Linked DNA regions of Homo sapiens: all the other regions are linked to region 1. Evidence: fine-mapped expression QTL. A gene starts in region 1. Each other region holds a variant in brackets. All regions are shown on one strand. Distances are from middle to middle. Region 1 holds the start of RGS20 (regulator of G protein signaling 20). Region 2 overlaps RGS20 (regulator of G protein signaling 20). Region 3 overlaps RP1 (RP1 axonemal microtubule associated).

What was found.
Region 2: its variant is fine-mapped to the expression of RGS20 in fibroblasts (GTEx, PIP above 0.99).
Region 3: its variant is fine-mapped to the expression of RGS20 in cerebellar hemisphere (GTEx, PIP 0.98).

Annotation. Positions count from the first base shown.
Region 1 is chr8:53,877,482-53,885,669 of GRCh38, reverse strand. It overlaps RGS20 (regulator of G protein signaling 20), which reads right to left and starts at 4,798. Exons shown (of 5, transcript NM_003702.5): 1 at 4,586-4,798. The coding sequence starts at 4,654. RefSeq lists enhancers at 1,106-1,155, 3,289-3,358, 3,636-4,267, 4,268-4,899, 5,547-5,841 and silencers at 4,849-4,958, 5,089-5,138, 5,219-5,358.
Region 2 is chr8:53,941,648-53,949,835 of GRCh38, reverse strand. It overlaps RGS20 (regulator of G protein signaling 20), which reads right to left. Exons shown (of 5, transcript NM_003702.5): 3 at 3,088-3,171. Among named protein-coding and RNA genes, the nearest start is that of RGS20, 65 kb to the right of the region's middle. RefSeq lists enhancers at 4,443-4,582, 4,593-4,642, 4,473-4,767, 4,228-5,427 and a silencer at 4,473-4,767. The variant C/T (reference allele first, on the strand shown) is at 4,696.
Region 3 is chr8:54,629,555-54,637,742 of GRCh38, reverse strand. RP1 (RP1 axonemal microtubule associated) reads right to left here. Exons shown (of 4, transcript NM_006269.2): 4 at 6,909-8,188. The coding sequence ends at 7,390. Among named protein-coding and RNA genes, the nearest start is that of RP1, 18 kb to the right of the region's middle. RefSeq lists an enhancer at 7,785-8,188. The variant C/T (reference allele first, on the strand shown) is at 5,044.

The sequences.
Region 1 (8,188 bases):
TTGTAAGACCAGATGTTCACTAGAAAGTCTCTGCCGTATAATTCATTTTTTTTTTTGAGACGGAGTCTCCCTCTGTCGCCCAGACTGGAGTGCAGTGGCGCAATCTCGGGTCACTGCAAGCCCCGCCTCCCAGGTTCATGCCATTCTCCTGCTTCAGCCTCCCGAGTAGCTGGTACTACAGACGCCCGCTAATACGCCCAGCTAATTTTTTGTATTTTTTAGTAGAGACGGGGTTTCACCGCATTAGCCAGGATGGTCTCGATGTCCTGACCTCGTGATCCACCCGCCTCGGCCTCCCAAAGTGCTGGGATTACAGGCGTGAGCCACCGCGCCCGGCCTCTGCTGTATAATTCTTAAACTGTGGATGTGAGGGCTGGACCTTTAAGCCACTATCTGCATCTGTCCATGGAAGGTGAATGTGGTTAGATGCCCACATGCGGAAATAAAAGAACAGCAGGATTTCAGGAATTAATACTTAATGCCTGGAATGAAACCAGTTACAGGCTACTGCATTAAAATAAGAAAGCTTTTCTCTTTTACTCTCGCTAGTCCATAAAATCTAGAATAATAAAATCTCCTTCTGTGTAATTTTGAAGGCGTTTTCTAAAAGGCTTTCTTATAGGAAAGACCTTCAAAGCCAGCTGGAAGGATATTTTAAGAATTCAAGAAAAGCTCAAAAATGATTTCTAAAACTGCTACAGGAGATTAATAGAATATGCAATCAAATGTATACCCAAGTGGGGCCTAAAATGCTAATGCTGGCTCTGACAATAGCTTGATCTGTGACCTTACCTTACCTGAGGCGAGTCATGTGGTCATGTCTTATAATGTGAGGGACCAAGATAAAGCTGTGGGACAACAGTAGCCACGACATGACTGCCTGGTCCTTCTTGGTGCTAGAGATAGCACATGCTCGTACACTTTTTCCTTATTTATACTTTCTATCTGTTAACAGTTCATTAATCCGTAGTAAACAGGAAATCAGCAGTGTGGTGTGTAAGAGCCCTGGGGAATGAGTCAGAAGTCTTCATTCTATTTTGGCCCCTAATTAGCTGGAGATCTCTGGCCCAGACCCTTAACCTCTCTGAATGTTTCCTCATCTGTAAAACGAAGGAGGTAGAATAAGTAACCTGATTTTCATCATTCTGTATTTTTGATATAAGGGGTGTTTCAGCTAAAACGTTTACAGTGATCTCAGACAAGTTAGCACTTCAAGCTCCTAAGGTACATTTTCAGATTCTCTTAAACTGGCTGTTCATCAGCCCTGGCAACACAGCGAGATCCTGTCTCTATAAAAAATTAAAAAATTAGCCAGGTGCGGTGGCAGGCACCTTAAGTCTCAGCTACTCCTGAGGCTGAGGTGGGAGGATCCTTTGAATCTGGGAGTTCAAGGGTGCAGTGGGCCTCAGTCGTGCCACTGCACTCCAGCCTGGGTGAGAGAGTGAGACCCAGCATCAAAAAAAAAAAAAAAAAAAAAAGACTGTTTTTCTAATTTGGATGATGGACATGTGTTTCATTATGCATACTCTTTATAGTATACAAAAATATGCATTCTGTTACTGATCTTATTTATAGTTTGAAGTCTAGCCAATTTAGCATCAATATAATAATAGTAATAACAGCTTTTGCTTGGTATGTGCCATCCCGTTATAAGAGCTCTATGTTATTAATTTACTGAATGCTGTCAGCTAGCACATTAGGTAGATACTCTTTTTTTTTTTTTGAGACGGAGTTTTGCTCTTGTTGCCCAGGCTGGAGTGCAGTGGCTCCATCTCGGCTCACTGCAACCTCTGCCTCCTGAGTTCAAGCAATTCTCCTGCCTCAGCCCCCAGAGTAACTGGGATTACAGGCGCCAGCAACCACACCCGGCTAATTTTTTGTATTTTTAGTAGAGATGGGGTTTCACCATGTTGGCCAGGCTGGCCTAGAACTCCTGACCTCACGTGATCCACCTGCCTCGGCCTCCCAAAGTGCTGAGATTACAGGAGTGAGCCACCGTGCTCTGCTGAGCTGCCGAGGTAGGTGCTCTTATTACCCCCATTTCACAGATGATGAAACTAACGCCCAGAGAGGATAAGTAACTAGTCCAAGTTTATGCAGTTAGGTTGGGATCTGAACCCAGTTACAGAGCTCAAGACTCCCACTGGTTTGGCAACACTGCCTCTCATATGCGTTACTAATACGTGATAAGAAAGATGTCACTTATGGCCAGGCGCAGTGGCTCACTCCTGTAATCCCAGAACTTTGGGAGGCGGAGGCAGGCGGATCACCTGAGGCCGGGAGTTCAAGACCAGCCTGACCAACATGGAGAAACCCCGTCTCCACTAAAAATACAAAAAATTAGCCGGGAGTGGTGGCGCATGCCTGTAATCCCAGCCCCAGCTACTTGGGAGGCTGAGGCAGGAAAATCTCTTGAACCCAGGAGGCGGAGGTTGCAGTGAGCCGAGATCGCGCCATTGCACTCCAGCCTGGGCCACAAGAGCGAAACTCAGTCTCAAAGAAAAAAAAAAAAGAAAGAAAGATGTCACTTAACGAACAGAAGATAAACAGGATGAGACCCCCAAAAAAATTAGGTTTGGAGAAAAAATATTTTAACAAAAATAGTAAATTGCAAACTATGGTTGTGCCAAAAAACTTACAGATAGAGTAATTTCACTAGAAATGTCCTTGTCAAGTTTGGGGCGGAAGTCAGACCGTTTTGCGAATTTGAACATTTGTTTAGTCAATTCCACGGTTTGGAGCCACTAGGGATGAAATGAAGCCAAGCCACGCCAGGGCCCTGCCACTTGTGTCCCAAGGAGGGTGGCTGGAGACTGATGCAGAAGCCCCTTCCTCCCCACACTCCGGGGCAATGAGGAGCCCGCGTGCAGGTGCCTAATTCCGCTAGCCAGTGGGCGAGGGTCCTGCTGGCACCGAGGGCACCAAGGCTGGGGTTTTGACACCAACGAACCCCAGCCAGGTGACTGGGGAACGTGGGGAGTTCGACAAAGAGCGATAGGCTTTTGCCATTTTTTTTTTTTTTTTTTGAGACGGAGTCTTGCTCTGTCGCCCAGGCCGGAGGGCAGTGGCGCGAGCTTTTGCCAAGTTACGAGACGGACAGGAATCGAGGAGATTCCCCTGTAGCGCTCTCCACCTTCCGGACAGAAATCCTGTAGACCACGTTCACTTCTCCACTCCGTGCATCGCCCGTGGCCCGTGGGCAGCAGCTGCTCCCCTGGGATCCCCCTCGCCTGTCCGCGAGCTCTCGCACGGCCGCGTCCCTGCTGCTGGGGTCGCTCGCTGGCCCTGGCTGCTCGCCAGGATTTTCCTTTGATGCTGTCAAGTCCGGGAAGCTCACGATGCACCTCAGTGCCCGCGCGCCGCCTCTCCCAAAGCCCCTTCCCCACTCACTCCCCCACAAGCGTGGAGGGAGATGGGGTAGGTCGCGGCGCCTATAGACCCCCTCCCGGCGCCCACTCTCTCTCTTCCACTTCTCTAGCAGCGGTAGGGCCGCAGCGCACGCAAACCTTTCCCCAAAACGCCCACCCCACTCTCAGCTAGCCGCTTCTCTCAGGGCTCCTCCGCCCGAGCTGGGTGTGGGGATCGCCGCGCACACAGAGACGGGAAAGCCACCCCGGTCCCGGAGCGCCGCTTCCCTAGAGGCCCCTGGCCCGTCCGCTCCCCCAGCGCTGGAGGACAGCCGCGCACACAGACCCTCCCCTCCAACGCCCACCGCGGTCCCCAGCTGCAGCCTGCACCTCCACTTCCCGCCCCCAGTCTCCCGCCCTCCGCCCCCTGCTTTCCAGTCTCCGCAGTCCGGGCGCCCAGACTTGTTTCGACTTCCCAGGGCAGCTCCGAGGGTGCGGAAGATCAAGTGCCCGGGTTTGTTCCAGGAAAATCCCGGCGGCGCCTGCACGTTAACTGCCCTGGCGCAGGCGAAGGGTGGAGGGCACTTCTCTGTTCATTCGGTTTTCAAGAGCGTGAACAGAGGCTCCGAGTGAACGCCCATACCTAGTCGGTCTTCTAGGGTCCACGCGTGGGGCGTCCACTTCCTCACCCTGCCCCTCGGTGCCCCTGCCCTGGTTGCACTTCTCCTAAAAGGAGGCGCTACGATTCCAGGAGGCTCTGTCTCCTTACCCTTCCCAGCGGCGCTCAAACCACCAGCCCCGGGCGCCCAACCCCTTCCTTGTCCTCTCCCTATCCCGTGAGAAAGCCGACGCTTCCACCCGCCTGGTCTTTCCGAAATACGCTTCGGGTGGTCAATGCGATTTCTAGGGTCTAAAGACTAGACTCCCGCGTTCCCCACCAAGACACCGACGCGAAGCCGCAGAGGTGGAATCGCGGACGCCCTGGCAGGCCCGGGACATATTGATCCTGGTGGCGCGATGCCCCTCTTCGCACGCGGACGCACTCGCAGCCCCACTCCCCCAAACTCGCACTGCGGGAAGGAACCCCCGACTCGCACCGGCTCCCGCCCCGCAGCAACGGCGACACCCTGAGGTCCGGACGAGCGGCGCGCCCCTCCCAGCCTCGGCCACTTTCCAGCACGAAGCCTCAGGGCGAGCCCGAGACGAAGAAAGAGAGTTCGAGGAACTGGGATACTCACGAGCCCACCGTCCACCCTGCCGGCCGGGGAGGAAGCCCCGGCCGGCTCGCCTCCGTCCGCCGTGCGCATGCGTCCCGCGGGTGCCTTCTCAATATTGCAGCGCGGAGGGCTGCCCTCTCTACGTCGGCGATTGCTCACCGCGCCTTTCGCCTTTCTCCGGCTCTCGGTCTTTGCTCTAGCCCTCTTCTCCCGGCCTCTTCCTCCCCTTGCTCTGCCTCCTCCCCGCCCCCTCACTCCTTTTACCCGGCCGGGCAATCCCACGTCTCGCCTCCCTCCAGCGGCGGCGCACTCCACCGCCGCGGGTGCTAGGGGTACCCCCGAGGCCCCACGCGGGGCGCGACCTCCACCCCGGCCGCAGCCCCACTGCTCCAGCCCCGCATTAGCAAGTCCCAAGAGTGTGGATGCGAAGCCAGGCGCGCGTAGAGGGCGTCCGCGAAGCCCTCTGTGTCATCGCCTCCCCTCGGCGCGCGGGGCCGAGCGAGACTAGAGTGTGCTGGACTGCGTGCTCGGACCTCGTGAATGAAGGGAGCGGGAGGAAGGAGCGGGGGTGGGCGGCAGGCATGGAGGGGGCGCTTGGTCCCCAGAGCTTCGCGTCTGTGGACTGCGCGTCTCTGGAGGGCAGCCCCCTACCTTCTCCCCGGCCCGGGGCGCCTCTCTGAGCTCTGTCCCCGCCCCACCCCGGCGCAGCCTAGGCCTCCGGTCTTCCCGCCCTGGAAAGCGGCCCTCGCCCCCTCCCAGCTAGCCAGAGCGCGGAGGCCCCACCCAGCAACCGAGCGGGGGATAAGGGGGGGAACTAACCCCTGACTCCAGATCCCGCTGAGACCCTCGGCAGTCGCCCTCCGCGTCCCCTTCTCCAGGGACTCCGGAGTCCGGGGAAAGGAGTAGACCAGGGGGCAGCGGGAGGGGGAACCCAGCCGCCCAGCTCTCCGGACTCGCAGCACCGCGTGTCCCCGTAGCCCGCAGCGTCCCTTCGGGAGTGGGACCCGGTGGGGCCGCGGGGTTAGTTCCCTGGAGCCCGGAGGGCTAAGCTGAAGCTGGAAACTGACCTGACACAAAAATAACATCACGTCATTTCCTCCCTTGCCTGCCGAGAGGGCAGGGGAGTGGGAGAGCGAGCGCTGGGAGCAGGCGGAGGCGCGTTTGGGGGAGGCTCGGAGTAGGCGGAGGAGAGCGACACGCTGAGAGTTTGAAAGGCAGCCTCGGGGAAGAGCGAGGGCTCCCTCCCGTTTTCTTGGACCATGGAAAGGAAATGGCCCAGGAAAAAGTAGCTTGGAGTGTCTTCCCGCGGGGAGGGGCGGTGTCCCGGGAGCCGCCAATGTCCCGTCCTAGGACTTGCCCAGCCACGTCCCGGCCTTCCCGACCTTGCCACCCTCCCTACTGCTAGCCCCAGCGGAGCGGGTCAGTTGGGGTTAGGAAGAATCGGGAGAGGCTGGTGTCCTGGGGAGGCTGGGTGTGGGGCGTAGTGGAGACCACGGTACTCACCGGCATAGGCGAGCTCTGCCCAGCGGTGGCGTCTTCTTCCCTGGGCTTGGCTACCGGATGGGGGGGCCTCAGCGGACGACCCCCCGAGGGTCGGCCGGGCAGTGCCAGCGCCGCCCCGAGCAGGAGCGAGAGGCGGCCCGGCAGCTCCTCGTGCCCCCTCGAGAGCCGGGCGGCCGGCAGGGCGGGAAGCAGGGGGGAGAAGTCCAGGCGCCTCCGGGGAGCCTCGGGAGGGGGTCGCCGGAGAAGGTGAGAGAAGAACCTTGCGAGGCTGGAAAGCGGGCTAGAAAGGAGGCCGAACAGCTTCGGGGCGGCGGGCGAGTCTGGGAGCTGTGCAGGCGGGAAGGACTGGGGTGGGGAGAGAGAAACAAAACCAGCATACGGTTACTGTGGTGTCCGGCCGCTTAGATGGGGCTCTTTACTACAGAATTTTGAAGCGTTACTTTGGGGGTGCAAGAGAAGGTCGGTGAAAGCAGAAGGAAAGGCCTATAGTTAGATTCTTTCCCCTCCCACTCCTGTATTTCCTAACTCCGTGCTACTTGAAGTGTGGTCCGTAGGCCAGCAGCTTCGCCAACACCTAGGAGCTTGTTAGAAATAAAGACTCTTGAGCCCCACCCAGCCAATGCATCGGAATCTGCATGGTAACATTCCCAGGGGACTACCATGCGCGCTGAATGTGACATGCGGTATGCAGAAGGGTCTGTGTTCACATCGCCTGGTTCTTCAGAATTTGGATGAAAATCTTAGTTCACTTTTGTAACTGTTGCTCTTCCCCTCCCTTCTCTGGTCTTCCCTTGTTCCCCCTGCCCTTTCCCATCTCCCTAAGTGCCCAGGGCTCTGCCTGCCAGAGGCACAGAGTTGGCCTTGGCTACTAGATTCTATTGGGATTGTTGTCTATGGAAGGTCCAGATAGTGGCTGAAGGTGGCTGAAGGGCCTCAGACCCTCCACAGGCTGGTTGGAAAAAGGGACTGGCCAGTGCGGCTGTAGGTATGTTGCGTGGAGCTGGGGACACCGGGATTCCATGTTAGGGCTGCTACTACAAGTGAACCCTCTGCAGACCTCCTTTCCAAACTCCATGTGTCCTTCTTATTCCCGGGAACACCGGCCTTTCCACCTTCCACTTGTTGCTTAGGAGACCTAAGCAATGAGATATTTTTTTTCTTTTGGAAAGTGGAGGGAAGCACTAGTTTAGAAGTCAGAAACCCACGGTTCTACACTCAACCTTGCCACTAACTTAATGGCTAACCTTGGGAATGTCTCTTTATTTTTTGAGTTCATTTATAAAGGGGTTGAACTCAGTGGCTTTTTAAGGTCACCTGCCACGTTCAGACTGTCATCTTTGAGACGCTCTTAGTTTCTTGGTACACTAACGTTTAGTGTAGTTACAAACCGGAATGTAGCTCGGCCAATCCAAACACCCCCTCATGCCAAACAAAAAACAATTTAATCTGTCTGTGAAAAACAAGAGCGGTGGTTGCCAAAAAAAATGAAGGTGGAGGCGGGAAGCAGCGAATAAAGTGCTGGGGTGGTGAGGCGCGGGAGGCGAGCGCGGGTGTTCTGGGTTGGGCGTGGGTCCCAGGGGCGCGGCGGCCGCTCTCCAGGGTCCTGAAGGCGGGAGCGGTCGCGAGCGGCCTCGTGGGCCTGGCGCGGTTCCCTCACTCCGCAGTCACCAGGCCCGGCCTGTATTCTTTCGGCGGTGGAAGTCTTGTGGGAAGCGATTGTCAGGAGAGAGGGAAGGAAACCTAGCAACCCATTCTCATTCATGAGGCCCTTTCTGGGAAGCCGCGAGTGCGGTGGCTGATTTGTCTTGCTGTCGTTTGTTTGCTCCTGGGTGAGTTGAACTCGGTTTGCATTTCCGAGTAAGTTCACACTGTTTCACTTCCCCTCATTACCTTTTCCTGGAGAATGGGGTCGTTCTCCCAGTATTTTCATTCTCCTCGTTCAGCTGCTCCCCTCCCCCGCTCTCTGGCAAGGTGCTTTTATTTTAGGGGCTGGAGCTGGGAGCCGAGGAGGCTTCTGGAGAAGCGCCAACAGCTCCCTCGAGGGGGAAAGTGGGCGACTTGGAAATCGGTCTTGGCGCCCAGGGAACGAGCTGCTGAGCGTTCGTCTCGCTCGGGAGGAGG
Region 2 (8,188 bases), 64 kb before region 1:
AACAGTGTTTACTCTCTTAGAGGTTAGACCACTTTCTTTACTTATATACCATTAAATTTTTGGCAAGCATCTATAGCTTTTTCTTTCTCCCTCTCCCTTTATTGATTGATTGATTGATTGAGGCAGAGTCTTGCTCTGTCTCCTAGGCTGGGGTGCAGTGGTGCAATCTTGGCTCACTGCAACCTCTGCCTCCAGTGTTCAAGCAATTCTCCCTGCCTCAACCTTCCAAACAGCTGGGATTACAGGCGTTTGCCACCACGCCCCGCTAATTTTTGTATTTTAATAGAAAAGGGGTTTCACCATGTCAGCCAGGCTGGTCTCAAACTCCTGACCTCAGGTGATCCGCATGCTTTGACCTTCCAAAGTGCTGGGATTACAGGTGTGAGCCACCGTGCCCACCCACCGTATATTATATAATATACTTTTATTTTTAAAATATAACTGTTTCATGTTTGCTTGAGAAGGATATATATTTTCAAATGTTTAAATCCAAGTTTTTGTAAATGACCAATAAATATATATACTGTATCTTATATATAGTATATATAAATATATACTGTATCTTATATATAGTATATATAAATATATACTGTATCTTATATATAGTATATATAAATATATACTGTATCTTATATAGCATATATAAATATATACTGTATCTTATATAGCATATATAAATATATACTGTATCTTATATAGCATATATAAATATATACTGTATCTTATATAGCATATATAAATATATACTGTATCTTATATAGCATATATAAATATATACTGTATCTTATATAGCATATATAAATATATACTGTATCTTATATAGCATATATAAATATATACTGTATCTTATATAGCATATGTAAATATGTACTGTATCTTATATAGCATATGTAAATATGTACTGTATCTTATATAGCATATGTAAATATGTACTGTATCTTATATAGCATATGTAAATATGTACTGTATCTTATATAGCATATGTAAATATGTACTGTATCTTATATAGCATATGTAAATATGTACTGTATCTTATATAGCATATGTAAATATGTACTGTATCTTATATAGCATATGTAAATATGTACTGTATCTTATATAGCATATGTAAATATGTACTGTATCTTATATAGCATATGTAAATATGTACTGTATCTTATATAGCATATGTAAATATGTACTGTATCTTATATATAGCATATGTAAATATGTACTGTATCATATATAGCATATGTAAATATGTACTGTATCATATATAGCATATGTAAATATGTACTGTATCATATATAGCATATGTAAATATATACTGTATCATATATAGCATATGTAAATATATACTGTATCATATATAGCATATGTAAATATATACTGTATCATATATAGCATATGTAAATATATACTGTATCTTATATATAGCATATGTAAATATATACTGTATCTTATATATAGCATATATAAATATATACTGTGTCTTATATATAGCATATATAAATATATACTGTCTTATATATAGCATATGTATATATACTGTATCATATATCGTATATATAAATATATATACTATAACTTACATATAGTATATATACTATCATATATATAGCATATATAAATATATATACTATCTTATATATAGCATATGTAAATATATATACTATATCATATATATAGCATATATAAATATATATACTATATCATATATATAGCATATATATACTACATCTTATATATAGCATATATATACTACATCTTATATATAGCATATATAAATATATATACTATATCCTACATATAGCATATATACTTATATATAGTATATATACTATCATATATATAGCATATATAAATATATATACTATCTTATATATAGCATATGTAAATATATATACTATATCTTATATATATAGCATATGTAAATATATATACTATATCATATATATAGCATATATATACTACATCTTATATATAGCATATATAAATGTATATACTATATCCTATATATAGCATATATAAATGTATATACTATATCCTATATATAGCATATATAAATGTATATACTATATCCTATATATAGCATATATAAATGTATGTACTATATCCTATATATAGCATATATAAATGTATGTACTATATCCTATATATAGCATATATAAATGTATGTACTATATCCTATATATAGCATATATAAATGTATGTACTATATCCTATATATAGCATATATAAATGTATGTACTATATCCTATATATAGCATATATAAATGTATATACTATATCCTATATAGCATATATAAATGTATATACTATATCCTATATAGCATATATAAATGTATATACTATATCCTATATAGCATATATAAATGTATATACTATATCTTATATATAGCATATATAAATGTATATACTATATCATATATAGCATATATAAATGTACTATATCTTATATATAGCATATATAAATATACTATATCTTATATATAGCATATATAATATATATACTATCTTATATATAGCATATATAATATATATACTATATCTTATATAGCATGTATAAATATATATGCTATATCTTATATAGCATGTATAAATAAATATGCTATATCTTATATAGCATGTATAAATAAATATGCTATATCTTATATAGCGTGTATAAATATGCTATATCTTATATAGAGTGTATAAATATATATACTATATCATATATATAGCATATATAAGTATATATGCTGTATTTTATATATAGTATATATAAATATATATGCTATATCTTATATAAAATTATATGATATACTTTTATTTTTAAAAGTATATTATATAAAAATAAAATAACATAATATGTTTTGTTAGGAAGAATCTATTTGTATTTGCAATTAGCAAAGGGATTAGACTAATAATGGAACTGATTTCTCTCCCTGTCACACGATGAATTAAATGGAATTCTGCAGGGGAGGAATGCGAGGCCACATAATGATTGGATATTACTAAATTACAGTTAGAGAAAGTATGTGTTCTGTTGAAACATACAAGGCAAAGAAAAGAAAGAGGTTAGTATTTCTGTTAGTTTAGTGAGGTAAAAAAAACGTGTGATTTCACCTTTCTTCCCAGGTTGGAAGATCTGCTCTGAGTTCGTGGGAAGCTATTGTGGGCCTCTGATCTTCCTGGTTTCTAACAGTGAGACTGCAAAAAAAAGACATTCACATGTTGACAGCTCAGTCCCTGCCAAGAAAAGATTTTTTACAAATACTTTAAAGAGAACTTCAGATCCCCAAGTATTAATAGAATTTCTTCCTCTACTTGGAAAAAAAAATGACCCCAGTTAGTTTTCCCAAGCAAACCAAAAGTGTGACAATAAGGTACTAGAAATATAAATAAACGTTGTGGTTTCTACTATTGAGAAAGAGTTAGAAATTATTGTGTTCAATTATACTTAGAATAATGATTTTTTAAATAAAAACATTCATTAGAAAATAGTAAAAAAGGGTTCGGCGCGGTGGCTCATGCCTGTAACCCCAGCACTTTGGGAGGCCAAGGCAGGAGGATCACTTGAGGCCAGGAGTTTAAGACCAGCCTGGGCATCATAGCGAGACCCTGTCTCTATTTAATACAAAAATTAAAAAAATGAAAATAGTAAAAAAGTAAGACTGTCAGGAATGTATTGGGGTTTCATTTCATTTTCTGCATCTTAAAAAGTATACATCCTCTAGGCTTTGTTTCCAGTCAAAATGGAGGCTTCATATATTTATAGGCAAATATACAAAAGTAGTAGAGAAAAATAAAGTGCATAATCAAAATCTATTGTATTTCTCTAAAGAGTTTGTTTTCTTATACACATTCTGTACATTTGTCTGTAAACTTATTCCAAGTATTTTTGTTGTTATCGTAAATGGAATTTGTACTTTTATCTCATCTTGTAACTGGTTATTGTTGTAATATGAATGCTATTTTTTTTTTTTTGGAGACCAAGTCTTGCTCTGCTGCCCAGGCTGCAGTGCTGTGGCGCAATCTCAGCTCACTGCAACCAAGCGATTCTTGTGCCTCAGTCTCCTGAGTAGCTGGGACTACAGGCATGTGCCAACACGCCCGGCTACTTTTTGTATTTGGTTTCACCATGTTGGCCAGGCTGGTTTCAAACTCCTAACCTCAAGTGATCCACCCACCTGGACCTCCCAAAGTGCTGGGATTACAGGCATGAGCCACCGTGCCCGGCCACTTTCTTAATCACTTTATTGAGCTATCATTCATATGCCGTCAAGTTTATCTGTTTAAAGTGTACAATTCAGTGGTTTTTAGTATACTCACAAAGTTGTGCAACCATCCCTACTATCTAATTCCAGAACATTGTCATCACCCCCAAAAGAAACCCCACCAGTAAGCAGTCACTGCTTATCACCTGTATCTCCCCACTCTACCGGCCCTAGGCAAGCACGAATCCGCTTCCTGTCTCTATAGATTTGCCTGTTGTGGAGCATACCGTATGTGATCTTTGCTGGCTGTCTCCTTTCACTTGGCGTAATGTTTTTGCACTTAGCCCATGCCGTAGCATGTATCGGCACTTCATTTCTTTTTCCAGTTGAATAATATCTCATTGTTTGGATAGACACATCACATTTCGTTTGTCCATTCATCAGCAGATAGACATTCGGGTTGTTTCCACATTTTGGCTGCATGAATCATGCTGCTATGCACATTCCTGTGCAAGTA[C/T]GTGCGAACATATATTTGTGTTTCTCTCAAGTAGAAACCTCGGAGTAGAACTGCTGAGTCATATGGTAACTTGAGTTTTAACATTTTGAGGAACTCCCAAACTGTTTTACAAGGCAATTGCACCATTTCACATGGTAATATTTGAGGGATCCAATTTCTCCATGTCCTTGCCAACAGTTACTGTTGTCTTTTTTATTCTAGCTTCATAAGTGGGTGAGAAGTGGTATTTCATTGTGGTTTTGATTTGCATCTTGCTAATGACTACTGATGTGGAACATCTTTTCATGCATTTACTAGCTATTTGTACATCTTTGGAGAGATGTGTGTTCAGATGTTTTGACCATTTCTAAATTGATTTATTTGCATTTTATTATTGAAATGGAAGTGTTCTTCATTTTAAGACCTGAAGCCTACAGAGTATTATTTTAATGATAATTTTATATCCTTCTTATTTCTGAATTCTTCTGTATTTGTATCAGTTATAGCTATAATTCTCTTCGGGTTTCATCTGCAAATAGGAAGAATTTTACCTATTTCCAATTCTCAGGCCTCTAATTTTCTTGTCTAATTAGCTAACACCTAAAATACTTTTTTTTTTTTTTTGAGACGGGGTCTTGCTCTGTCTCCCAGGCTGGAGTGCAATGGCGTGATCTCAGCTCCCTACAACCTCCGCCTCCCGGGTTTAAGTGATTCTCCTCCCTCAGCCTCCTGAGTAGCTGGGACTACAGGCGCGCACCACCACACCCAGCTAATTTTTGTATTTTTAGTAGAGACGGGGTTTCACTATGTTGGTCCTGCTGGTCTTGAATTGCTGACCTTGTGATCTGCCCGCCTCGGCCTCCCAAAGTGTTGGGATTACAGGCGTGAGCCATCGCGCCTGGCCAAATACATTGTTAAATAGTAGTAGAGATTGTGGACATTTTGCCTTATTCATGATTTTTGCAGGAATGCTTTCAGCATCCCATCAACATGAAAATGGATTTTATCACTGACAATTTGGGTTTTCTTTATCTTGTTGCTACTGTATTTTCTATATTCTTTATTATATCTTTTCTTAACACTATTTTATAAAAGTTTTTCAGCCTGTTTTTAGCACAACTGTTTTATAAATTTTCAGTGTGTGTGTGTGTGTGTGTGTGTGTGTAGCTCTATTTTTCTTTAAAGGCAAAATCATTAGAAATGCAGGAACCCTTTTGACTTCTTTCTTTCATGATGTCAGGGCTAAATAGTTTCAGTAAATAATGGCTTCTTTAAAAAAAAATCCAACCAAAAAAAACTTGAGAGGCATCTGAGTGGTACGCTCTCTGCATGACTTCCGAGGCTTCTTTTGTAAGCAAAACACATTACTGCTCAGTGGGTATGAAAAAGCAGAGGAAAAAAGAGATGAATTTGACAGGAGTTCCTCAGAGAACCAGAAGCTGTACTGCAAACTAAATAATGCAAACTTATTTCAGCTTTGATATACTTTTTCCCTCATTTCAAGTAAGAATGTTTTAAAGAGACAATGTGGTTTTGAAAAAGAGAAGAATTTTTTTTTGTGAAGTTTTCTTTACCTCGGTCCACTGTTATTGTTACAGCAGACCTAGAAGATGTCTATAGTAGCCAAGATAGTTGCTCGCTGTGTTTTAGGAAGTTTCAGTAAAAGAAGACCCATGGCCAGATATATTTTGGTAAAATTTTGAGTGATAAAGAGAAAACTTACTAGAAAGGAAAAAAACTTTATATTCAACTGAACAAGAATCAGCATGCCTTCCCTTATAACACTAAATACCAGAAGGCCTTACAGCAAAATGTTGAGAAAGATTCACAAGTACTTAGAAAAGAAATTGCCATTTACTTTTCTTGAAAATTGACTTGACTATGTATATTAATATGGATAAATCTCAAAAGTGTGGTGAAAAAAAACAAGGAAATTCACTATTAAAACAGTTGAAGTTTGCTGTGTACTTTTCCCCATCTCATTTCTTCCTCTCTTTACCCTAGAGAGAGCCACCATTTTTAACTTACTGTTTACCATTCCAATTCATAATTATGCTACTATATTATATTCATAAACATATTTTTAAACATAGTATAAATGTAATTATGTAACATGTATTGCTTTATAATTTTTTTTCCCTCTAGCATATGAATTTATTTATTTCTGAGACAAGGTCTCACTCTGTTGCCCAGGCTGGAGTGCAGTAGCATGATCATAGCTCACTGCAGCCTTGAACTCCTGGGTTCAAGTGATCCTTCCACCTCAGCTTCTAGAGTAGCTGGGACTACAGGCACATGCCACCATGCCGGGCTAACTTTTTTTTTTTTTTTTTTTAGTGGAGACATGGTCTCGCTGTGTTGCCCCAGCTGGTCTCGAACTCCTGGGCTCAAACAATCCTTCTGCCTTGGCCTCCCAAAGTGCTGGGATTACAGGCATAAGCCACCACGCCTAACTTATTTATTTGTTTAGTTTTGTTTTTCTAGTATATGAATTTAAGTGCTGTATGGTAGTGGATTGTATAACTATACCACAATATATTCATCCATTCTCCTGTCTATACCCTTTAGAACCATTTTAAATTTTTCTCACTCAGATGAATGCTGTAGTGAATCTTCTCATACATGTCTCCTTTTTTTGCAGGGGTGTGAGAAGTTTTTCCAGGGTATAGGTTTTTCTTTTCTTTTTTTTTTGTTTTTGTTTTTCAGACAGAGTCTCACTCTGTTACACACACTGGAGTGCAATGGCACAATCATCATTCACTGCAGCCTCAACCTCCCTGGGCTCAAGCGATCCTCCCACCTCAGCCTCCTGAGTAGCTGGGACTACAGGTGTGCGCCACCATGCCTGGCTAATTTTTGTGTTTTATTTTTTATTTATTTATTTTTTTGAGATGGAGTTTTGCTCTTGTTGCCCAGGCTGAAGTGCAATGGTGCAATCTCGGCTCACCGAAACCTCTGCCTCCCAGGTTCAAGCGATTCTCCTGCCTCAGCCTCCTGAGTAGCTGGGATTATGGGCATGTGCCCCCATGCCTGACTAATTTTGTATTTTTAGTAGAAACGAGTTTTCTCCATGTTGGTAGGGCTGGTCTCGAACTCCCGACCTCATGTGATCTGCCGGCCTCGGCCTCCCAAAGTGCTGGGATTACAGGCGTGAGCCACCGCACCCAGCTGATCTTTTTTTTAAGGTGGGAATTGATTTTTGTATATGGTGCTATGTAGGAATATAAATACATTTTTATATATTTGGATACCAAGCAGGATGACCAATTTTCCTGGTTTGCCTAGGGTTTTCAGGTTTTCTGGGCTATGGGACCTTTCAGTGCTAAAACTGAGAAAGTCCTATCAGTGGGGATGAGTTGGTACCCAAATACCAAGTATCCTGCTATTTACTGAATAGTTCATTTTCTCCTTTGCTGATGTCACTTTTATCACGTGTTGGTAAGGTTTTCTAGATTTATTGTCTTTCACTGATGTTAAAACTATAGGGTGTATTTTTGGACTAATTATGAATAAC
Region 3 (8,188 bases), 750 kb before region 1:
ACATATTTACATGGTTATTAATGAAAGCCCTGTAATTTAATAAAAAAAATTATATTGGCAGAGATATGAAGTGGGAGGCTGAAGGTGAAATGTCAATACACAAAATCTAAAATTGAAAAAAAAAGCAGTATGTCTCTAAATACAGAAATAAACAGCAGAAAAACAGCTAAATATTTTCAAGAAAGATGCCTCTGGAGTGGGAATTAGGCATGTACAGGGTCAGAAAGTGGTCTATTTTTTATTTTGAGCTATGCACTTCTGATTAAAACTAGTTATAAATGTATAACTTTGATAAGAAATAAAAATGCAAATGGAAGAGTTCACCATTGAAAAAGTAAAACTTCTATGCTGGATAGCCTGCCAGTGCAGGTCTACTGTGTGGTTCTGGCTCTTAATGCCTAGGTGGTCAGCTGTATGCAGAGACTTGTCCAGCTAGGCACTCACTGTGGACCCCTTTCCTAACCCACTCAGGACCACCCAGGAGTTCAATCAGTCCTATCGAGCTATTACATAGCACTCTACATACTTTGACATTTCATGACAACCAGATATTTCATGAGACTCTATCTGTTGATCCAGATGAGGTCCACAAGTTCCTAGCAGGATACCGAACAGGGCATACAAGGCTAACCTCAACATCAACCTGCTGAAGGAAGAGCACCAGACAATCTCCATAATGCTATGCTACACCATGCCTCCTGGAAGGGTGACAGGACAGAGCCCATTGTGCAGACTGGTGCAAACTAATAGGTGAACAGGGAGAAAGTAAGCAAAGGCATAAAATAACAAATCTAGAGAACTTTCTCTTGGTCCTAGTTATTCTTCATATAATGTCTTTTTGACTGAGAATTTCCACTAACAGACCTATATTGAAATATATGTCTAAAACAAACTCCAATGTCATTTAAATGACATGAAATTATTCTTTTGGATTCTCTATACCACATCCATGAGAATAAATGGGATACATATGTATGCAAGTGTGTTTTTTGTTTTTGTTTTTTGAGAGGGAGTTTTGCTCTTGCCGCCCAGGCTGGGGTACAGTGGCGTAATCTCAGCTCACTGCTACCTCCACCTACCGGGTTCAAGAGACTCTCCTGCCTCAGCCTCCCGAGTAGCTAGGATTACAGGCGCCCACGACCAGGCCCAGCTAATTTTTATATTTTTAGTAAAGAACGGGTTTCACCATGTTGGCCAGGCTGGTCTTGAACTCCTGACCTCAGGTGATCCACCTGCCTTGGCCTCCCAAAGTGCTGGGATTACAGGCGTGAGCCACCATGCACAGCCAACTGTTGTGATTTTTATGATGGTTTCTTTCTAATTTGGTCTTGAGGTTTTTCTTGAGAGTGGCCATAAGCTCCAGCCTTGCCCTTGCCAGAAATTCAAAGGATTTTGTTGTGGATGTTGACAGTGCGCCTTCCATGGGATGCCTCTTTATCCTGAAGGATGCCTATTGCCTAAGTGTCTGACCCATGACTAGGTGTCCCTCTCACAACAAACTGTTTTTTCAGGCAGACACCCTTGTGGGTCTTGCCTGACCTGTATCCAGATTATTCCTGTCAAGACAGCCACTCTCTAAGATAGCTCTGACCAAAAAGAAGGCTACGTTAAGAGCATCTATGCCAAATGAGACACAATGAAGTGAAATGGAAATGCGCAAAACATAAGTGTTTATTATTCACAGTTCCCAGAAAGGTTAGGGGTGCCAACAGAAAGAGGCAGCAGGGAGCTCAATCAGCAAGGGGTCAGTGGGGAGGAGAGGAAGAGGGAGAAAGGGAAGGAGGGAGGTTGTGAGACAGAACTTTTGGGAGAGAGGGACGGGGAAATCTCTGGGACTGTGTATGCCTTTATTAAGCTCTGTGGACATTATCCCTTAGGCTTTCTTGTGGGGGTTGTAGATGGGCTAATTTAAAGAAATAAGTTCCCCTCTTCCCTCCTGAAGGGGTGAACCTATTTATGTGACTCTGGTGTTGACCGTTACATTTTATCACGTTCAATAGCTGTGGGGTGTGTTGGGTTTTGGGTCAAAGAAGTGAGGAACAAATAAGCCATACGGCAAACAACTACACGGGAAAGTAAGCTTTTAACTAAGCCAAAGGTGACAAAGTAGGACTAAATTTCAAATATTATGTCAATCCTAAAAATGGATGCTGAGGCAGCAACTACATTAAATAAACTTATAAATATATATATGAATATTCATATATATGAACATAAATATAGTGTTTAGCTTTGTATCACCCATTTCTCACTAACCACTTTCACTCTCAATATAATGAATTCCTGTGATGTACAAGTCATGTTTTCCCATGAACCTACCATCCTATCTTAATTTACTTGGTTGTATTGATTCACCTGAGCTTTAAGCAGTCTTACGTAAGTAGTAGTCTGTAGACTGCAGCCATTTATCAACATTAGTGTTACAGAAGAAAAGAACTATTCTCAAGATGAAAAGCAGCTAAATGATTTCTACTCCATTGACCTTTGTTTTTTGTTCTTGCTGTTACTGATTGTTATGATAATCTGTGTATGAATCAAAAAGTAAACATTAATATATGAAATATCTATGCATAGAGAAAAGGCTCATGTGTATATCCTTTAGAAAGAATTCCCATTGATAAAAAAATAATCATTGTATATTACATCTTTTTTTTTTTTTTTGAGATGGAGTCTCGCTCTGTTGCCCAGGCTGGAGTGCAGTGGCACCATCTCGGCTCACTGCAAGCTCCGCCTCCTGGGTTCATGCCATTCTCCTGCCTCAGCCTCCCGAGTAGCTGGGACTACAGGTGCCCACCACCAAACCTGGCTAATTTTTTTGTATTTTTAGTAGAGATGGAGTTTCAACGTGTTCGCCAGGATGGTCTCGATCTCTTGACCTCGTGATCCGCCCACCTTGGCCTCCCAAAGTGCTGGGATTACAGGTGTGAGCCACTGCGCCCAGCCCATTGTATATTACATCTAAAGTCCATGATGGGAATTGTTTACTAATTTTTGTCTAGAACAAGATGAACGTATCTTCTCTAAACCATCAAACATAGTACTTGTCTCTGTTTGAAGGTTTGCTGTTTTGTTGCTTAATTTTCAAAAGCTTTTTGGTCATACATTCTTTGCCATGACTTGGGAATAGTCCCTTAATAACTTAGCACTTAAGTTACTGGAAGATAAACCCTTTTAGGAAAAAAACTGTGAAATACCTTGAAATGGACAAAAAAGAAATTACTAAGTGCCTTATCAAGCCCTCTTGGGGTTATCTCTGTTTTTTCATTATCTTTAAATTATCTGATAATCCTGCAAATTGTAAAAACACAGATAATGCAAACTATTCTTGTCCATAGAAATATAAATTGGTGGTGTCCAGGGAATGTAATTTTTGTCCTGGACAGACCCAAATTCATTTCAGCATTTCTTATTGCTTATTTTTAGTGATACTTTAAATTCTTCCTTCAGCCCATTGTATATGTTAATAATTCCCTATGTAATTTGTAAGTTAAATACAATCTTTGGCACATGGTCATGTTATATCTATATGGAATTCATGATTTTGCTTTTAAAAACAATTATCCTTTAATACCTTAATGGACAAGAGCGTAGAATAGTAGGAAAAATGGTAAGTACTTTGGATTAAAAGAACCCTGGGCAGTAATGGAATCCTTCTTAACCTCAATAAACAGGGAATAGAAAGTCATTTTGTTTTCAGGGTAGATCTGTACATAGAGTATCAAACCACAAAACTCAGGACTTTTTATGAGAATCGAATACAGATATTAAAGTAAAAGTGCTTCTTTACTAGCCTCTGTGAGTTTTAGTCCCCTTCCTGCTACATTAAAGGTACTGTTACCCATCGAGAGGGTTCTCGTGAGGACTAAGATAATACACATAAAGAACTTAGCCCAATATTTGGCACAGAGCAGGGGCTCAAACTGTTTGTCACCTTCACTTTTGTGAAGGGCTATATGACTAAATGTTGAAAATATTACATTTCATATATATATATATATATATATAGAGAGAGAGAGAGAGAGAGAGAGAGAGGCACAAAATAAAGCTAAAATACATCTTGGTCAGAAGAACACCAACTTTGAAAAGTGTATCAAACGTATTCACACTAATGGCTTTTTAAAGAAAAATAGCTAAAACATGTTTAACACTGTGTGCCAAACTCTGTGCTAAGAGTTTTACAAGTATTTTCTCTAGTGATCCTCTCACAACCACCTTATAAGGTAGCTCTTCATAAGAACTTTAATGAGTGCCACAAATATGGAATGTAGTTTCAATACCTCAGTTTACACTCTGAAAAATGAGGCATGTTTTGTGCCACTGAAAAGTTACATTATAATATTTGAAAGTGTCATGTAAAAATTACCCCTATCCACTGAACCAATAGCTCATTAACTTAGTTTCAGCTTGAATTAGGGAATTTTGTTGGGTCCCATAGTCCCCAAATTGGGCTTTCCTTGGAATCAACTCTGATGATTCTTGACAGCTGGCATTTTTGAGTGCCTCTACTTTTGAACTTCTGCTCCTTGCTACTAAATATACTAATAGTATATTTATTTTAATTCTGAACACTGCTGCTTCTTCCGGGTTTAATATTTGGGGGATGCCTGCACAGTTGGGCATTCAGCTTTCTTTGAAGCAGAAGCAGGAAGCTCAGAGACTGCCCCAATGCTTAAAGCATTGCCTTTATCCATGCAAGCCTCTCAGAGTGCCTGAACTTTTGGCAGCGCATAGCACAGCTGCCATCTGGTGGGCAAAACACAATAATTTCACCACTCCACCTTGGGACCAGAGACTGAATTCTACATATCTTCCCCTGAGTAAGGGAGGCTACACTTCCATACTCAGCCCTTCAGGTACTTCATCTCTAAAGCAAAAGCTAGCTCTCTATAATATCCTTAAATTTCCTCTAAAGTTTCACTTACTCTTCTAAATTTCACAGTGTGACAAGATTTTTTAAATATAAATCTTGCAAAACTAAAAACATGCTTTGAATGCTTAAAAGAAAAAATCATCTTTACAGACATTTTAAGGATAACTAAAATA[C/T]TGCTTTCGTAAAATATAAAAAAACTAAAAAAAATACAAAAAACTGAGTTCTATCCTTCAGCATATTTGCACATCCTTCTACATGTATGGATCTGAAATTAGTAAGAGGTAAAGAAAAATTAAATGCCTTCAAATGCACTTCTTATCCATTTAACACACATTTATTAGGTACTTACCATGTACCAAGTACGAAGCTAGCTCTGTGAATAAGATGTGGCCCAAGATCTCAGAATTCAATGCATGTGAACACGTTCACTTTAAAGAAGTATGTTTAAAGAAGAAGTATGTTACACAGTCCCATGCATTACTAATTCATGGTTGTCACTCCAGCTTCTCCCAATTATGATGCATGAAGGACACTGTTTGGTGTAATAGTATTGCCAAAAACTACATACTGCATGCCATATTTCTTGAAACCTCCTGGTTTTTATAAATGATTTCCTCAATCTTCTTGGGTATATCTATATTTCACACCTTCCAAATTAAAAAGAAAAATTCTTTCCTTGTCTCCCTGCACTAGAGAATGAGTGGTAATTTTTTTTTAAATATCTTATCCCTGGCTGGGCGCGGTGGCTCACACCTGTAATCCCAGCACTTTGGGAGGCCGAGGCGGGCGGATCACCTGAGGTCGGAAGTTCAAGAACAGCCTAACCAACATGGAGAAACCCCGTCTCTACTAAAAATACAAAAATTAGCCAGGTGTGGTGGTGCATGCCTGTAATCCCAGCTACTTGGGAGGCTGAGGCAGGAGAATCACCTGAACCCAGGAGGCAGGGGTTGCGGTGAGCCGAGATCGCACCATTGCACTCCAGCCTGGGCAACAAGAGCGAAACTCTGTCTCAAAAAAAAAAAAATCTTATCCCTTCTTCCTCACATGAAAACAATGATAAAAATGTAGGATGCCCAGCGCAGTGGCGTGTGCCTGCAGTCCCACCTACTTGAGAAGCTGAGGATGGAGGATCATTTGAGCCCAGGAGTTCAAAACCAGCCTGTGAAACATACTGAGAATCAGCTTTAAAAAAAAAAAAGTAGTAAAAAGAGCATTGATTTTCAAGCACAAAGAACTGGGTTCAAATCCTGGCATGATACCCTACTGTAAACCAGTCATGAAAGTCCTTTACCTTTTGCTCCTAACTTCTCTACTTAAAAAAAAAAAAAATGCAGGGGAAGTAATAAAGCCACATTCACAGTGCTTTTATGAGGAAGAATTACACACAAAAAGCCTGCAGGTGTACCACAGTCCCTGGTACACAGTAGGCACAAAATTAATGTAAATTATTTTCTCCTTTCTATTTTTTCTCCAAAACTTTGTGCCCTTTCATTCACTACAATTTCTCATTGCTTACTACAGAAACTTACATAACATTATAGCTTCCATATTTTCACTAAAAGAAAGCATCACTTAATGTTTTTTTAAAAAGCATACTCTACATAGAAGTAGTCTCCAGCTGATGAAGTAGCAATTCATAATTTTTATGAATTTATGACTCATGCTGAACTGACACCAACATTATTCTTGATGTAATTAATTTAATTACCTTTTGTTCCTCAATGCCAAATTTATGTTATTTTAGCATCTCCATGTGTGGCTCCAAAAATACTGATCATTCTAATTTGAGTTAGTTGTAGACAAGAGGCATAGATTTCCAAGTTTCCTAAGACTTGTTTCTATATCATCATATAGTCATGCAGTGGAAGGACTCTTAAAAGCTTTCCTGGTTAACTCCTGGGAAATACACCACAATTATTCAAACCAATTGATACTTGATAGTCTAGTCTATTAGAAAAACACTAAATCCTGTCCCATGGAAATGCTTGCAATTTCACTGGATATTCTGAGGAACTGGACTCAACATATTTGGCACAAGAAACTATGAGATTGTCGTGGATATCTTATAATCATACTTTTTATCAAATCAGTAGTTAAAAAGAATAAGTGAAGTACTTTGAGGTTATGTCTATTCAATTTATTCACCAATACAGTCAATATACATTTTACACCAAGCTAACAACATTTTTTAAAAAGGATATAATTCTTGTCCTTAGCACATTTTGATGCCCTGAGCAAAAAAAATCATAGATACCAAAAAAAAAAAAAATGTAAGTTCAGAACAAAACCAGATAGAAACTTCCAAAATAAGAGAACCTGAGTCTGTAATTGTTGGAAAAACAAAAAACAGAGACATTATGAAAGTCAAACTGGTTATCCAAGGGTAAGCTTTCTAGAGTAAGTTCATTTTGAAGAAGTGGAAAATTCTTAGAGGTTATCTAGTCCGTATTCGTCACATGTGCTTCATCTCATGGGAAAAAATGAATTGACAAAGAATGAGTGTGCTGATATTGAAATTATAAATCTTCTTGTTCTCTACTGCTTTCAAGATCAGTTAAATTTAATATGTCTTCCTCTTCCCAAATGAAAAGATTTTCACCCTCAAACATACAAAGTTCTAAAATATTTCTGTTGCTAATATTTAAGGAGGTCTCAACTTGGCAAATATCTAAGAGGCAAGCTTGACCAAGCATTTCAAAGAAGTAATGACAGTTGATATTTTCTCTTACTACTTGGTTGAGATTTGTTCTTGAGCCCTGGAATCTGTTATTTAATAAGTTGTTATTCTCATCGACTGCTTTAAAGATTTCATTTGTCTGACCGCTGAGGTCTTGTGTATTTGAATCCACATTACCCACAACTAACAATGATGTGTGCAAGAAATTCATACAAAACCTTTCCTTCAAATCTGGTTGAAATTTCTTTAAATTACCTTCTTCCTCTAACCCCAAGAAGTTAATTCTTTTTTGTTTTCTTCTTTTACCCATCAAGTCAAATGTGTTACTGAAATAAAACTGATCAAATATATCACCAATGGCATTATCAATAAGATTTTGTCTCATACTTGCTTTATTGTTCTCTTCCCTGAACACATTTTTGTCTGTCTGAAGTAAATATGGGTGTATTTTCATCCATAAATAAAAACCCAAGAAATTTTCAATATCAGATTCTTTGCGATATGCAAATCCTCGGTCTTCCTCATTCATGGGTTGGATAATAACAGTTAGTATTGGGCAATGTTGACCACAAAGAGCATACAGTTTATCCAAAGAGTCAGCTTCCTGAAGTGTACCATGAATCATATTACTGCCAGGC